Homo sapiens: one gene and its partners. The protein of the gene in region 1 interacts with the protein of each later gene in a biochemical or structural test. Each region holds a gene or a part of one and is shown in the gene's direction. Other genes may lie near its edges.

Region 1 (3,521 bases):
CCCTGGAGACAGGTAGAAATGCAGCCCAGCTCTAATGATTGAATTGTCTCTGGAATGTCAGTCATGATGAATACATGTAATATGCATGCTTCCATACAGTCATACTTGTCTTGGTGTTTCCCCTCTACCCCTTCCATAATATTTGAAAAATAGGATTGAGGTTTGGAACCTGATCACCAAGATGTACATTTGGGTTTGATTGCTCTCCATTGTTAAAGTTTCTTTTTTGCTCTTGCCTTTTTCTGTGCAGAGGATGATGTGGACCTGGAAGCCCTGGTGAACGATATGAATGCATCCCTGGAGAGCCTGTACTCGGCCTGCAGCATGCAGTCAGACACGGTGCCCCTCCTGCAGAATGGCCAGCATGCCCGCAGCCAGCCTCGGGCTTCAGGCCCTCCTCGGTCCATCCAGCCACAGGTGTCCCCGAGGCAGAGGGTGCAGCGCTCCCAGCCTGTGCACATCCTCGCTGTCAGGTAGGTCCAGGCCTTATGGGCAGAGCCTTCTCCAAGGATGAGAGCTGTCGGCAGGGACACTGCTCTCTGTGAGTTAAATGGTGTTGGGGGGAATAGTGTTGGTCTTGCAAAGTCAAGAGGCAGATACATTGCTTTGATGGGATAACGGATACACTGAGTGTGTGCAGTGTGCCGCCCTTGGGTTGAACTTTGTAGCCAGTTCAATTCCAGTAGTACCTTTTATTGAGTGCCTGCTATGTGCAAGGCACTGTGCTAGGTAGAGGGATATGCAGGAAAACCACCAGAGGAAAAATCTCTGGAAAGATTGGAAGAACAGCCATGGAGCTGATTGCATGCCCCAAGTCCTCACTACCCAGAGTAGGGACGGGAGGCTAGCAGCTACAGCACCCCCTGGAGCTTGTCGTGCAACCCCAGACCTCCCTCAGAGTTGCATTTTGCCACATTCCTCTGCTAATTCAGGGGTAGGCACATCTCTGTGGAAACAGGGAGGCTGGAGGGAGGAACGTGCTGGGGACGTTGAGGGAGGTTCCTGGGAGGTAGGATTTCTGAACGGATGTCAAAGGGTGATAGGAGCTCAGATAGATGGAGGCAGAGGTTTTGTGAGCAGAAGAGATGATGCAGATGGGGGCCGGTGCTGAAGCACTTTGTGTGCCTTTTTCAGGAGCCACGTGAGAAAGAGTTCTGGACAGGCGTGTGAAGGGGCTGGGTTTGGGTTTTGACACCAGCATTCTGGTTGCCAGGGGTCGTGGGGGCAGTGGTAGAGGGCAGCAGGGTTGGCAGAGCATGGCCGGTTTGGAAGTGGTCTCAGGAGCCCCCGGATGGGAGATGATTGTGCGCTGCCTGAGGATGAAGAAGGAGGGGGGATTTGAGCACGTTGCTGAGGAGGAGCAGCTGCGTTTTGCCAGCACTTGAATTTTGCCAGGGCTGTGAGGAGACAGAGAGTGTGTGGAGGGTGACTTGGATTTTGTCTCGAGTGCCTGGGAGGAGGGTGTCTAGAGAATGGTCATGTCGAAGGTGAAGGTGCTGAGAGTACCTTAGACATTCTGAATGAAGATCTTTGTAGAATCAAGCTGAGAGCCAGGGGCAGCCCTCAAGGATCCGCCTGTCTGCCCTGTCGCAGTCGGGATGGCGTGGGGCTCCGTGGGACCCTGCGTGCCTCTCTGGGCCTTTGCGGAGGATGTACAGCCATCTCTGCTGGGACTGCCCCTTGCCCTCACTGGCCTCTGTCAGGATGGGGTTCTGGTGCCTTCTGTCTCAGCACCCCATCTTCCGGGGAGCTCTGTTCATTTCCTGGGCTCTTCTTGCTTCTAGAAACTTCTGAGAGTTTTCTTTGTGGTCTGACATCTTGGGTCTTCCGCAGCCCAGATAATCACCTTGCCCCAGGTGGCAGCTGTTTCTTACGGAGGGGAGAGGGTGCAGCGGCCCTGGCGCCCGTGGTCAGCTGCCTCCCCAGCTTCCCACCCCGGCTTCCCCTCCGACTTCTCACTTTTTGTCATATTCATTGATGCTGAATGATGCCTGTCCCAGGGTTTGTTCAACTTTGCTCTTTGAAGCGTGACCCCTTGTACTTAGCTCCTGAGGAGTTAAGTCTGGTGGGAGAGCTGTTTTTCTCTTGGGAGCATCTCTTGGGAGCATCACAGTAGCCTTGGGGAGTGCCTGGGAATATGGAGGTGCAGTTGCATGGCGAAGGTGCCCGAGGGTGGGCTGGAAAGCCAGAAGGCCTGCCTCCCTGCTGGAGTAGTTGCCCAGGACCCTTGAACCTCGAGTTCTGGCTGAACTCGCCCATATGTGCCCCGGGACTACCTGCGCTAAGTCCCTGGGATGGAGGGGCAGGCTTGCTCTGTGGGACAGCAAAGCCCTCTCCCTACAGGGTCACAGGTGCTGTTCCTTGGGCCCAATGTCTTCTCTCTGGTGTCCTCTCAGATAAGTAGTTTTGTTTCTTACTTTCAGGTGGATTAAAAAAAAATGTGGAGATCAATCTGGAATCACCAAAGATTATTTTGTGAAGTGAGGCCATTTGCTGAGTGCTTACTGTGTGCAGATGCTGATGAGCTCCTCCTTGTTATCAGTGCCCTCGGAGGGAGGCAGTGTGGGTTACCCTCGCTTCCCAGCTGAGGAAACCGTGGCACAGCGGGGCGGTAACTGGGCTCACCACATCAGGTGGGAAGTGGCCATGGAGCAGGCTGCTGGGTACCAGAGGTCACGGAGCATGGTCCACGCTGCAGAGGAACTTACCGGGGGCTGCCATGCAACCCGAAGGGAGCTGGGGGGCAGGCAGGGTATGGGCAGAGGAGACACTTGGGAAGGGCAAGAAGGCTTTGCACATAGGAAAGCCGATGGGTGAGCCGATTCTGTACAGAGAAGGAACCCAGGCTTTTGAGAGTGCAAGGGCCACGCATGTGTTCTAGACAAACACAAGTGAGCCAAGGCACAGAGAAGAAGGACCTCGCCCCTCAGCTCTGCAGTTCCTGCCACCATCCCTGACATCCCTAAATCTCAGCACCCCTCTCCATAGTCACTGTCCCTTCTATTGTGAGCCTCTTTGGTGGGGATTTTTTGTCTTTGTGTGATATCCCTTAGTCTTGCCTTAGGCGATGTCTCTGAGCCGCTTTAAAGTCAACACAGGACTTTTTAAAATGCTCAAAACAACCCAATAAATAGAGAAGCTTTTGTGGACACTAAAACGTCAGATTATCTTTTTGGGGTGAAGTCACTGGCTAGAAGCCGTGGATGGGAAAGTGGCACTGGCCACCCGTTTTATCCATCTCCTCCTGTATGACAATGGCCAGACGTTTCAGTTGGACGCCTTGCCAAGGCTGAAGCTGTTATGGGAAGAGTGGGATTTGTTCACAGTAAAAATAAACTTTATGGCATGTCATCAAACCATTATAGGAACGGCTTTCCTGTATTTCGCAGCACTGATTCCCTTCATGCCATGTGAGTTCTCGTAATTTTAAATCCATGCATCATTTGCTGGTCTACGTGGGATAGTTAGCTGGATCTTCCTTTAAAAAATAGGGAAAGTTGGTAAAAGAGAAAAAGTAATAC
Region 2 (3,521 bases), on another chromosome or scaffold:
GGGAGAGCCCACTTTTAGCCACTGGATGCTCTACTGATGTCTCTTTTGGAATTCACTGTGATTTTCAAAATGGTATCTCCAGAAACTCCTCCAATTAATCCCTGAAATGTAAGGGTAGTCTCTTTTTCTTTTCTAGAAACCTGATCCTGGCAAAATGATTAGCTTTAACAGTAGGATTAATTTTTTTTAAATGTATATAAAAATACTTGTATGTAAGAAATCCTAAAAGGGTATTTAGTGAAAAGTAATTCCCTCTCCTATTCATTTTCCCCACCTAGAGGCAATCACCCTGGAGTTTTATGTGTGTCCTTCTAGAAATACTGTGTGCACATATAAGCATTTATTATAACATGTGAATTTTGCTCTCCAGCTTTTTGTGAATATGCATGTTTATAGCAGTATCTATTCACCAGGACCGCATTTAGCTTTGCAATATTCGGTCTACTTTGAACACTGAATTTTCTGATTATTTCTTTCCCCTGGAGACGTCAAAGAAAACATGAACACTAGCCTTTTGAATTCAGGGTTTTCTTTTCATTTTATTTTCATTTGTTCATGTGTTTGTATTTACATACATTGTGCCTGAATATTGTACATGTATGTGACAGTTGTGTACTGTAGAATCAAAAACTAATGTCTGTGAACTGAACTCTTCTTGAACTTTTTGTTGTTGTTGTTATTGTTGCTTTTGGAGATAGGGTCTTGCTCTGTCACCCAGGCTGGACTGCAGTGGCACAATCACAGCTCACTGCAGCCTTGAGCTCCTGGTCTCAAGCAACCCTCCCACCTCAGCCTCCCAAGTAGCTGGGGCTGCAGGCATATGCTACCTGACTAATTAAAATTTTTTTTTTTTTTTTGTAGAGACAGGGTCTCACTATTTTTACTAGTTTGCCCGGGCCAAGCCAGTGTTGAACTACTGGCCTCAAGTGATCCTCCCACCTTGGCCTCCCCAAAGTGCATCCCTACAGGCATGAGCCACTGCACTCAGCCTGAACTTTCGAAATTTATTTTAAGGGCCCACTTTTAAATGCTTCTTTTCAGCAGCTAACTTTCCAGCGGATGCTTCATGTGGTGCCAGCCATACAGATACGCTTTTAGAACTTGAGCTTTGGAGAAGCTTATGCTTGCTTTCTGCTCTCTCCTGAGGTCATCAGATACTTCCCTTGTTCAGTAACAAAGAAAGTGAGACTCTTTCTGTTACCTAATAAAAGGCCAGTCTGTCCATTTCATTTTGGGTGCTATTAACATTGTTGACCATTTACAATGTCACAGGCCCTGGCACTGAGCACATCATGTGCAGCCTCACTTAATTTTCACACCAGTGCCCTGAGGTTTCTAGAAAAGAGGAAGGGCCCCAGTTTAGGTGGCAGTACTTTTCAATTTGGAGGCAGGAGATCCCAGTTTTCCTCTGACCTCTCTGAGCTTCCGTGTTTTTACCTCTAAGACAGAGAGACCAATCTCTGTTCAGCCACCTTAGAGGATTGTTTTGAGGGTCTATAAGATGATTGAGGGAAAGCTCTGAAACTGGTAAGAGTTAAATGTATGTTTGTGTTATGTTGATACGAGATTCCTCTGAGATGCTCTTTAGTCCAGGCAGGTTTATGGCTCACACAGCGTTCCTAGGGTCTCATTCTTCTGCACAGGCAGGCAGCTCCCGAGCCAGCCAGTCTGGACCCAAATGCCACCTGTGCTCTTGGCTGGTCTTGCGCATTCACCGAGGCTCACTGTACCTTGGTGTTCCCATTTCTAAAATAAGGCCTGTAGTAATCCCTACCTCACTGAGTTGTTGAGAGACTTCATGTAAATTGTTTAGCAGGGAGCCTGGCACAGAACAAGAGCCTAGCAGAAAAGTAAGCTGTTGTTACTTTAAGCAAATATTTAGCAGCCTAAAATGGTGGCTTTACCAGTTTCTGTAATGGTTGAAGTGATGACAGAATTCAGCCAATCCCACCCATAGTTTTTCTTGCTAATAAAGCAGTTTGTTTCTAAGTGTGTTTTGATGCGTATAATTAATACTTCCTGTCCTTGATTTTTGGCTGAAAAATGTCTTCTCTTCCTCGCACCCTCTGTTATTCCCGTAGTGAATATTTTCATTGTGGAAGAGAAATTCCCATTGGCTCATGGTTGGCATTTTATTTCTCCTGTCCAGAGACAATATTTCCACAGCCTCAAACGTGAAAACTGAAAATCTGGTGCCACTTACCACCTTGTAAAATCAAGTCATTGTAATTGTGCCAGTATAATCATTGATCTGAAATAAAAGCAGAAAATAAATCAATGGGTAGCTTTCTTAAATACATAAGAACTAAAGATCAAATGGGATATTGGAAGACTTTAACTTTTCCTCCATAATGGTGGATCTTAATTAAACACACAGAAGAACAATTTATAAAATAAATTCATAGGTTTGTTTGTTCTTTTTTAGTGTCAATTTTTAAAACTATCTCTTTTTTAATTAAAAAAAATAGAGATGGGTCTCACTATGTCGCCCAGGCTGGTCTCAAACTCCTGGGCTCAAGCAATCCTCCCACCTCAGCCTCCCAAAGTGCTGGGATTACAGGCATGAGCCACTGCACCCAGCCTAAAACTGTCTCAAAAGTAGACAGCATAATGAACTCCCATGTACTTATGATGTGGCTTTAACAATTATCAGCTTATAGTCAGTCTTGTTTTCTTACATAATAAAGTTACAGTTTCAAAGCCATTAGGAAGAATAGCTTGCTAATTATAATTACTTAGTTTTGATAGTGTAACTTTGTCCTCAGATGGGTAGAATCGTTACTCTGGAACAGGGGTGTCCAATCTTGGCTTCCCTGGGCCACATTGGGAGAAAAATTGTCTTGGGCCACACGTAAAACATACTAACGATAGCTGATGAGCTAAACCAACAAAACAAATCCCACAAAAATCTCATTTCTTTTTTTTTTTGAGACAAGAGTCTCACTCTGTCGCCCAGACTGGAGTGCAGTTGCACGATCTCAGCTCACTGCAAGCTCCGCCTCCTGGGTTCACGCCATTCTCCTGCCTCAGCCTCCCTAGTAGAGGGTACTACAGGCGCCCGGGGGTTTCACCATGTTAGCCAGGATGGTCTCCATCTCCTGACCTCGTGATCCGCCCACCTCGGCCTCCCAAAGCCCTGGGATTACAGGCGTGAGCCACTGCACCGGGCCAAAAATCTTATAATGTTTTTAAGAAAGTTTGCAAATTTGTTAGGCCACATTCAAAGCCGTCCTGGGCCATATGCAGCCCGTGGGCCATGGGTTGAACAAGCTTGCTCTAGAAATTGGTTTTCAGGCCGGGCGCGGTGGCTGACGCCTGTAATCCCAGCACTTTGGGAGGCCGAGGCAGGTGGTCACCTGAGGTCAGGAGTTCGAGACCAGCCTGGCCAACATGCTGAAACCCTGTCTCTACTAAAAATATAAAAAATTAGCCAGGCGTAGTGGGGAGTGCCTGTAATCCCAGCTACTCAGGAGGCTAAGGCAGGAGAATTACTTGAACCTGGGAGGCAGAGGTTGCAGTGA
Region 3 (3,521 bases), on another chromosome or scaffold:
GTGGAATTGTGGAGAAGGAAATGCTGGCCTCTGTCCGCGTTTATCTAGAGCCGGAGGAGGCTGCCTTTCATTCCCGAGCATGCTCCAGTTCCTCCCTTGCTTCCAGCTCCCCGCCCCCATCCCCCATTTTCAGCCATTGGAGGAGGATGTAGGCTAATTAGCCACAGCGCTGCCTCTCACTCCTCCCATGCAACTGAGGAAGTCGCTGGTAAAGGCATGCATGGCACAGAGGCAGGGACCCTGACTCCTTCACCAAACCTCTCTCCCTAAAATAAGGGGTCGCCCTGACACGTGAGTGAGGTTATTTTACAATAATTGCATTGAAGGCCTACTTCAGTACAGCAGAAACAATATGTGAATTTTTATTACCTCAAGAAATGATAATGGCAGAGAATAAGAAAGCATCCTGAAAAGGTCTGGAGAGACATGTGACTGACAGGCTGTGGTTGACAGCCAGGAGGAGCCAGGATACACTCAGCTCCACAAGTAACAACACAACCAAGAGGACTGGCAACAGACCCCGAAGTCCGAGTGTTCCCTCTGCAGGGGGACAGGCTGTGCTCTGGCCCAGCGCCTCTGGCTGTGCTGACAAGTTTCTAGCTAACGGGTCGCCACCTCCCCTAGAAGTAAAGGAAGCTCCATGCATATGGTGTGTGCTCCTGCTGGCTGTAGCCCTGGGAAATAGGGGAAGAAATCTTGGTTTCTATATGGCTTGACATCGGGTTCTTGCTCCTGCAAATTAACCGGGTCAGATACTGGGGAGGATTCCAGATGACAGCCTCACCGGCCAGGAAGCAACCAAAGCACAGCACAGCTTGACGGGGAGCTGGCAGAAGGTGATACAATGAAAAAGGGAAGCAAAACTAGAGAATAGTGGCTGGCAGTAGTTGGGAGGAGGTCAGGACACTGGCCACCCCCTAAGCATGGTAGTTCCTGTAGTGTTAAGGCAGCCAGTGTGCAGGAGGCCGCACTCTCTGAGGAGTTAGCGATCTGTCTTCTGTTAGTGCTATGCAGCCCAGTGTTTCAACAGCTTCCCAAGAGTCAGAAAAACCTCAAATGATGGATGGCCTGGCTGAAGTCATCAGTAGAGATAGGCCCCGGACATGGTCTATCTCCCCATCAAATTCACCAAACCTCAGGGCACTGTGGGGTTGCAGGGCCAGACAGTGCCCAGCCACGCTGGCATGATGGCAGATCTCCAACAGTGGGGAACTAAGAGTTTGCCCAGGCATGAAGAAAACGAATTTATGAAGTTCATAAATGGAGTTTATAAATGCTATAAACAAGGGGCAGCATGCTTTCATTCTGTGTGGATTTTTTTGTCTGCTTTATTCATATATTGTTGTCAGTTTAATTGAAGTATAATCTACACACAATAAAATTCAACAATTTTAAGGATGCAGTTTATTGAGTTTTGACAAACATAAACAGTCACACCACCCCATACATAATATAGAACAGGGGTTGGCAGGTCTGGCTCCCAACCTGTGTTTGTTTTGTACGTTTTTAAAGGGTTGTTAAAAAGAAGAAGACAGGGATCATATGTGACCCGCAAAGCCAAAAATATTTACTGTCTGGCCTTTTACAGGAAAAGTTTGTTGACCCGTTGACCCTGACAGAACATTCCCATCCCACTTGGAGTTCCCTCTGGCCCCTTGGCAGGGATTCCTCCCCTCCCCCAGGCAGCCACTGATCTGCTTTCTATAGATGTAGTTGCGCCTTTTCTAGAATTTCGCATGAATGAAATCATACCGTATGTTGCCTGTTGTGTCTGGCTTCCTTCACTTATCATGTTTTGAGAGTCATTCTGAATTTTTCATGTCTCAGTTCTGCACTCCTTCTTTACTCCTGAGTAGCATGGCAGGGTTTGACTCCTGGGGGGATGGGAGTACTCCGCATGTTTTAGCCACATGCAGACGCAAAGAAGAAGAAAGGGGATCTGCAAGTGCGGCGGTCAGGGCCTGGATCCCCGGGGTGCCCACTCTCACTGCGCTTGTCTTTGCAGGCATGAACAACCGGGAGGTGCTGGAGCAGGTGGAGCGAGGCTACAGGATGCCCTGCCCGCAGGACTGCCCCATCTCTCTGCATGAGCTCATGATCCACTGCTGGAAAAAGGACCCTGAAGAACGCCCCACTTTTGAGTACTTGCAGAGCTTCCTGGAAGACTACTTTACCGCGACAGAGCCCCAGTACCAACCTGGTGAAAACCTGTAAGGCCCGGGTCTGCGGAGAGAGGCCTTGTCCCAGAGGCTGCCCCACCCCTCCCCATTAGCTTTCAATTCCGTAGCCAGCTGCTCCCCAGCAGCGGAACCGCCCAGGATCAGATTGCATGTGACTCTGAAGCTGACGAACTTCCATGGCCCTCATTAATGACACTTGTCCCCAAATCCGAACCTCCTCTGTGAAGCATTCGAGACAGAACCTTGTTATTTCTCAGACTTTGGAAAATGCATTGTATCGATGTTATGTAAAAGGCCAAACCTCTGTTCAGTGTAAATAGTTACTCCAGTGCCAACAATCCTAGTGCTTTCCTTTTTTAAAAATGCAAATCCTATGTGATTTTAACTCTGTCTTCACCTGATTCAACTAAAAAAAAAAAAGTATTATTTTCCAAAAGTGGCCTCTTTGTCTAAAACAATAAAATTTTTTTTCATGTTTTAACAAAAACCAATCAGGACAGGTGTTTGTTTTTGTTTTCTTTTTTATAAATATGAATATATATAATATATATGTCCCTGTACATATACAATGTGGGTGCTAATGTGGAGACTGTGGCCGGCCTGAGCCACCAAGCTGCGGGACCCAGAGGGAGGATTTTACTGCAAGTCAGCATCAAAGCACCGGTGTTATTCTGAAAACACCAGTGGCCTCATTTTTGGCTTTTGCAAAGCATGAATTTTTTCATTTGGATTGCACTTTCCTGGTTCATGACTGTACCTGTAGGTGGTTGTTACTTTGACTCTTTTCAGGAACCACCCCCCAAGCTGAATTTACAAGTTCTGTTAGCACTATTTGCTTCAACTTACTGCGATTTGTTCTCAAAACTTAAAAATAAGCAAGCAAATGGCTGATACTACCAAGAGAACTGGAAGATGGATACCACACAAACTTCTTGTATAAAAATATGAATGCTGAAATGTTTCAGACATTTTTAATTTAATAAACCTGTAACCACATTTAAGTGATCTAAAACCCATAGCATTGTAGTCATGGCAACCCGCTAAACTTTCTCATGCAACTAAAATTTCTGGGGGAAATGAGGGTGGGGGTTGTACATTTCCCATTGTAAAATAAGTGTTTTAAATGTCCTGTACTGCTAACGAATGACTTTCTATATGTCCAGGAGTTCTCCAGTGGAATAACTATGCACTACTTTACATTTCATGGGGATGCACAAAAACAAAAAAGTATTACATTTTTAGTTGCTGTTTGTACCAACCTTAAATTACATATGTTTAACAACAACAAATCAAAAATCCTATTTCTATTGAGTTTTTAATACTGACTAGCAACTCTGAAGT
Region 4 (3,521 bases), on another chromosome or scaffold:
TTTCCAAGGGGTGCTGCAGCCTGTGTTGGTCCTAAAGGTGGTCCTTTGTTTGTAGGTCAATGTGCGAAATGGAATGAGCTTGCATGACTGCCTTATGAAAGCACTCAAGGTGAGGGGCCTGCAACCAGAGTGCTGTGCAGTGTTCAGACTTCTCCACGAACACAAAGGGTAAGAGCTCAAAAGTCAATTGACTTCTTCAGACTAGTAAGGATCTTCTAGCTTCAAATAGCTATGTTTGTATTAAATTGTACTAGCTTCCTATAGAATATTGTATATTTCTATACCTTTCTTTATAAAGAGATAATTCAGAAAAATAGGTATTAAGAAATTGAAATTATTGCTTGGACATTCTCTTGAAAAGTTAAATACACGTTAAGCTGGGCCTGATGACCAATACCTGTAATTTTTTTTTCTTTTTGAGGTGGAGTCTTGCTCTGTCGCCCAGGCTGGAGTGCAGTGGCGCGATCTCGGCTCACCGCAAGCTCCGCCTCCCGGGTTCACGCCATTTTCCTGCCTCAGCCTCCGGAGTAGCTGGGACTACAGGCGCCCACCACCGCGCCCGGCTAATTTTTTGTATTTTTAGTAGAGACGGGGTTTCACCGTGTTAGCCAGGATGGTAATACCCGTAATTTTAACACTGGGAAACTGAGGCAAGAGGGTTGCTTGAGGCCAAGAGTTCAAGACCAGCCTGGGCACATAGCGAAGGCCCATCTCTACAAAAGATTTTTAAAAATTAGCCAGGCATGGTGGTGCGGCCCTGTAGTCCTAGCTGTTCGAAAGGCTGACGTGAGAATATTGCATGACCCCAGGGGCTTGAGGCTGCAGTGAGTCATGATTGTGCTACTGGACTCCAGCCTGGGCTGGAGCAAGATCCTGTCTATTAAAAAAAGCCAAAAAACAAAAAAACAAAAACAAACACATGTTAGGTATTGATAATGTTTCCATGGATGGAAACAGTGATGTTAGATGCTGTGTTTTTTTGAGACAAAGATTTTTCTTTGTGTTTACTCTAATGCATTATATAGACTGGGCACTCAGAAAGTGCATTATTTTATATAAAGAATGCTATCCTCGGGAGATTGACTTTTCTCATTCACTAATTTTTTTTTTTATTCAGTTAAATGTGTACTAATCCCTGCTGTTTGATAGATTGTTTAAAGATGCAGAAGCATTTCTGCTTCAGGGAAGATTCATGGTTTATCCTATTCCTAATGGTGGTGGCAAGATAGAGGCATCCCCTCAAAGGCTAGGAGTAATACCTCAAAGCAGCAGAGCTGTCCATAATTATCCATTATCCATTATTCCCTCCACCCCGAAAATATAGGGAAACCTTTAAAGGGTTCTTTTTTACCCTCTTCTTGGAAAGCGTCACTTATGTTATTCATCGTTAGCTTACATTTTTTCATGTTTCAAAGAGTTCTGCAGTTTGGGAGAATAGCCCAGGGAATGAATCTACTCGAAGGGGTGAGTGTAATTCTCAATTTAGGAGGCGTTTGTTGAAGTGCAAATCTTTGAAGCAGACGTTAACTTTTGCTGAAGGTAGCCCAGGTTGGGTCCCTAAGCCAATCCATAGTGTTCCTTAAGGACTAGAGAGATTCTGAGACAGGGAGGGCTTGGTCTACTCTCATCCAAGGCTGCACTGGTTTGGAGCTACTCTGGAGTCTCTAGGACAGACAGCAGATTGTCACTAGGATCAGTCTGCAGATTGATGAGAAAATAAGGCTTGTCCTCCTTCTCTTCATAAGGGCAAAATAGTCCTTTGGAGTTATAGGAAGTTTTCCAGGTGCTGTATAGGTAATTATATTAAGGAATGTATTGTTTACTGTTGGATAGTGAGAAAAATGGCTTGACTAGGCTTCTGGTAGATAATGGAGAGGCTTGAATGGTGCTATACATGTTATTTTCTCTTTACCTGAGAATATTCTTCCTTTGGAAAATGGGCCAGATTAACTGGATAAAACATAAGAAAGGAATTGGGCATTACTTTTTACTTATGTATCTATTTTTTGTCTTATTTATACTGTAGGCACAGAAAGTGTGGTTTCAGAGTAGATTTTAAGACAGTTAAGTTTCTCATTGACTTATAGACCCTACAACTACAGATTTGAGTCTGTTATTAATTAATAGAAAAGTACATTTTTCATTTGTGGTTCCTTTCTATTTATCTAGATTGAAATAGGCTACTGAAGACTAAATTTTGTACTGCAGCAATATTTATAATCCATTTTACAGGATTTGGGGATTTTTGTAAGATTTTAGTGTTACAAATTCCAATTTAACGTATATTGACTTTATTGTGAGATTTTATATATCATTGTTTAAAGAAAACTTTATTCTGGCCAGACATGGTGGTTCACACCTGTAATCCCAGCACTTTGGGAGGCTGAGGCAGGAGGACCGCTTGAGGCCAGGGATTCAAGACCAGCCTGGGCAACACAGCAAGACTCTCTCTCTACCAAAAAACATTTTTTTAAGTAAATAAAGAGAAAACTTTATTCTGAGAACATGGGCTTTGGAGTTCAACAGACCTAGATTCCAACATAGGCCCTTAAACTTGCTGTGTGGCCTTGAGCAAATTACCTTCTTAGAGTCCCAGTTTTCTTATTTTTCAGATAGAAATAATACCTACTTCATAGGTTTGTTGTATGAATTAAATAAATTATTGTTGTATGGATTAAATAAAGTTGTGTTTATATGGCATGTGATAAATGGTAGCTGTTGTTATTTCTATTGAACTTTGATCTTGTTTAAACATTTCATGTTTTTTTTAAATCCTTTCTAGTAAAAAAGCACGCTTAGATTGGAATACTGATGCTGCGTCTTTGATTGGAGAAGAACTTCAAGTAGATTTCCTGGATCATGTTCCCCTCACAACACACAACTTTGTAAGTTGCAGATCTCTTCTCTTTCTGGCATGTTGAGGGCTTTGCCAGGCATAACAGAGATTTCTCAGGTAATATGCGTATGTATATATATATATAGTTGGATTGTTTAAAGTTCTTTATGCTGTTGTTTACAGTAAGGCAATTTAGATTTCATTAGTCAGAGATATACTCTAATTTGTGATTATGAATTCTGTACATGCTGGAAGTATGATTCATTTTGTAAAAACTTTTTTGGAGGCCAAGAAATGAAGTTGTCTTTTGTCATCTTTTATTTATTCAGCATAATTTACACCTGTGTTCTTGTTGTAGGCTCGGAAGACGTTCCTGAAGCTTGCCTTCTGTGACATCTGTCAGAAATTCCTGCTCAATGGATTTCGATGTCAGACTTGTGGCTACAAATTTCATGAGCACTGTAGCACCAAAGTACCTACTATGTGTGTGGACTGGAGTAACATCAGACAACTCTTGTAAGGCATTGTTCTTTTATCCAAGGAAGATAGGGATGAGGAGTATACATACTTTAAAGGGTATTTGTTGTAGATTTTGACTGACAGGTCTGGATTCTAGACTCATTTAATGAATTGTGATCCAGAAACTACTTTAGAAACAGTGATAATTCTGAAACTAGCTAGGTTT
Region 5 (2,392 bases), on another chromosome or scaffold:
CTGAGACAGAACTTAGATTCTTTTAAAAATCTGAAATGCTGAATTTTAGTAGCCATCAGTTTCATCTTCTCACTGTAACTCTCCATCCTACTGTGAAATTCCAGAGAGTCTAGGCGATTCCAAAGGAAACCTTATGATGCATTACTCCTGTTGTTTGAATTTTCTGTTGCTACTCTACGTGGTCAGAGAGAGAAGTATATTTTCAAAGATCTCTTAAAAAGGAACACAGCCCAGAGGGCTCTTGAATTCTATTTCCAATTCTGTCCTTGATTCCTATAAGTTTCTTGAGCTAATTATTTTATCTGCTTATGTTCATAATCTTTCTGCCAGAAATCATACACTGTAGATATAATGCATTTTAGAAATGTTTGACCTTTTGCTTTGTAAATCCATAATTCATGCTGAAAGCAACCTGCTCATATTCTGCTAAACCACGTAATGGAGCAATTTCTGTGTTCCTGGGAAGAGAGCTAGCTTGATTTGATTTAATGTGAACTCAGTCTCCTGCCACTGAGTTTATTCAAGCCCTACCTGTTTGTTGACCATTTTATCCTGTTCTTCAGTGGTTCTTGTTTCACTAAAGTTTAAAAATGTGTTTATTTAAAATTCTACTTGTACAAAGAAAACTAGTCTGAGTGCAAAAACTATAACTTTGTTTAAAATAGCTCTACACATAGTTAACATTTACCTTTTTTAGGTTTTCAGATTTGACTTTCTGCTGGTCATCTTTTCAAAGAAAATGAAACGTTTAAAAGTTCATCTGATAATACTGCTACCATAGTTTTGTTTTCACTGCTCATCTCTTATTAAGGTTTTTAACCATAAAACTGAAGCAATTTCTGTAAAGACACAAATTGATAACTTAGTATAGAATTAAAATTCATTAAGTTATCATAAGTTTGATGATATCCTTGTTAATGTACTGATTTTTGAATTATTTTATTTGCCATAATCCATATATTTCTAACATGAGTATTTTGACAGTATTTAATAAATCAGAAAGCTGTTTGAATGGAAGTAAACTATTGAACCTTTTAATTTTGCTTTTTCATGAAATTCTACATTGGGGCATCATTCAGAAAATATTTGTGGATACAGATTTTGGAGATCTCTAAGCCTATGCCTAATATAGCTTTAGAGAATTTTAATGGCTTCTTAAGGAGCCATAGATTCACAGTATTCTAAATATTTATGTCTAAGAAGGGGGCTCTTCCCTGTCCACAAAATGTGGGTTTATTTGTTGGTCTCCCTGGTTGGTTTGTTTGTTTCTGATGTAGGGCACGTGAAGCACTCAGACAGTGCCTCCCTGACCAGCTGAAAGACACAACCTTCGCCCAGGTGCTAAAAGATGACACCACCACGAAACGCTGGCTTGCACAACTGGTGAAGAACCTGCAAGAGGGCCAGGTCACCGATCCCCGGGGTATCCCCCTGCCCCCTCAGTGATCCTTCCCTGTTCCCTCCCACTACTCCCCCAAGTTGGGGAAAGGAGGGGGAACCTACGAGAAAAACAGCTCAGGTTTTATCACCGACTGGGAATAGACAACCTCAATGCTGAACCGCACTGGAGAAAAGGGGCAAGGTACCCCTGCTGAGGTGTATGGGCTGCCATCTCAGGCTGTCTTGAGGACCTGGGCTCCCTCTGCTACTCCCAGGAAATGGGCTCCTGACACAGCAGTCTGCCACCACAGCCCCAGGAGGGTGTCAACACCAGCAAATGCTGTATTTGCAGCATGTCCAAGATGACCCTTCTCCCCTACCTCTACCTAGCCACTGGCAGGGAGGGGAGACAGTGGTGATAGCAGCAGCACTCTAGGCATGGTGAACGCCTGGGACCAAGCCATGTGGCGTTTTTTATTTTGCCTTTCTGGAAGACTCAAGATATGTCTCTTCATTCTCTCTCAGTATTTGTTTACTTTGGTTTTTTTGTTTTTAATCTCAGAGAGAGGTGTGTTTAGTGGGCACAAGCTGTAATATTCAGCAAAACTTTGTCGACTGGCACTGTTTACAAGTCTGTTAGCTGCATAAGCTCAATAAAAAGTTGGTCTGGGCATTACATCCCCTCTGGCAGGCCAATAGCTGCATCAAGCTGTTGGGAGAAATGGGAGGGCAGGGGAAAGATGTAAAGCCAAAGTACAGCAGGAACCCACCACCTGTTTCCCTTCCTTCTCCCATTCTACTCCCAGTCCGGAATGCCACGAGGACCTTAACCTTGTTTCTGGCTTTAGCTGCTAGTTTTCCCAAATCTCAGTGCTTTCCCTTTTTGAACTTCCCTTCTATTAAACTTAAAACAGATGTCTTAATTAATCAGGCTGTCTTGGAAGGGTATTGTATTGGGAGACAAGGGGCGGTGGTGGACCTCACCTTCAATCCAAGTTTTCAAAGATATTTT

What was found.
Region 2: the proteins of GRB10 (region 1) and ABL1 form a complex in vitro, tested with the Homo sapiens proteins (one study listed by BioGRID).
Region 3: of the proteins of GRB10 (region 1) and FYN, one has a biochemical effect on the other in vitro, tested with the Homo sapiens proteins (one study listed by BioGRID).
Region 4: the proteins of GRB10 (region 1) and RAF1 form a complex in vitro, tested with the Homo sapiens proteins (one study listed by BioGRID).
Region 5: the proteins of GRB10 (region 1) and CNOT9 form a complex in vitro, tested with the Homo sapiens proteins (one study listed by BioGRID).

What each region holds. Positions count from the first base shown.
Region 1 is NC_000007.14:50,671,388-50,674,908, reverse strand, and holds part of GRB10 (growth factor receptor-bound protein 10), read left to right. Parts: intron 1-250; coding exon 251-473; intron 474-3,521.
Region 2 is NC_000009.12:130,838,237-130,841,757, forward strand, and holds part of ABL1 (tyrosine-protein kinase ABL1), read left to right. Parts: intron 1-3,521. UniProt on the Homo sapiens protein: Non-receptor tyrosine-protein kinase that plays a role in many key processes linked to cell growth and survival such as cytoskeleton remodeling in response to extracellular stimuli, cell motility and adhesion, receptor endocytosis, autophagy, DNA damage response and apoptosis.
Region 3 is NC_000006.12:111,660,432-111,663,952, reverse strand, and holds part of FYN (tyrosine-protein kinase Fyn), read left to right. Parts: intron 1-2,005; coding exon 2,006-2,214; 3' UTR 2,215-3,521. UniProt on the Homo sapiens protein: Non-receptor tyrosine-protein kinase that plays a role in many biological processes including regulation of cell growth and survival, cell adhesion, integrin-mediated signaling, cytoskeletal remodeling, cell motility, immune response and axon guidance.
Region 4 is NC_000003.12:12,608,597-12,612,117, reverse strand, and holds part of RAF1 (RAF proto-oncogene serine/threonine-protein kinase), read left to right. Parts: intron 1-55; coding exon 56-168; intron 169-2,782; coding exon 2,783-2,885; intron 2,886-3,194; coding exon 3,195-3,352; intron 3,353-3,521. UniProt on the Homo sapiens protein: Serine/threonine-protein kinase that acts as a regulatory link between the membrane-associated Ras GTPases and the MAPK/ERK cascade, and this critical regulatory link functions as a switch determining cell fate decisions including proliferation, differentiation, apoptosis, survival and oncogenic transformation.
Region 5 is NC_000002.12:218,592,831-218,595,222, forward strand, and holds part of CNOT9 (CCR4-NOT transcription complex subunit 9), read left to right. Parts: intron 1-697; coding exon of another isoform or gene 698-743; exon of another isoform or gene 744-1,017; intron 1,018-1,277; coding exon 1,278-1,446; 3' UTR 1,447-2,392. UniProt on the Homo sapiens protein: Component of the CCR4-NOT complex which is one of the major cellular mRNA deadenylases and is linked to various cellular processes including bulk mRNA degradation, miRNA-mediated repression, translational repression during translational initiation and general transcription regulation.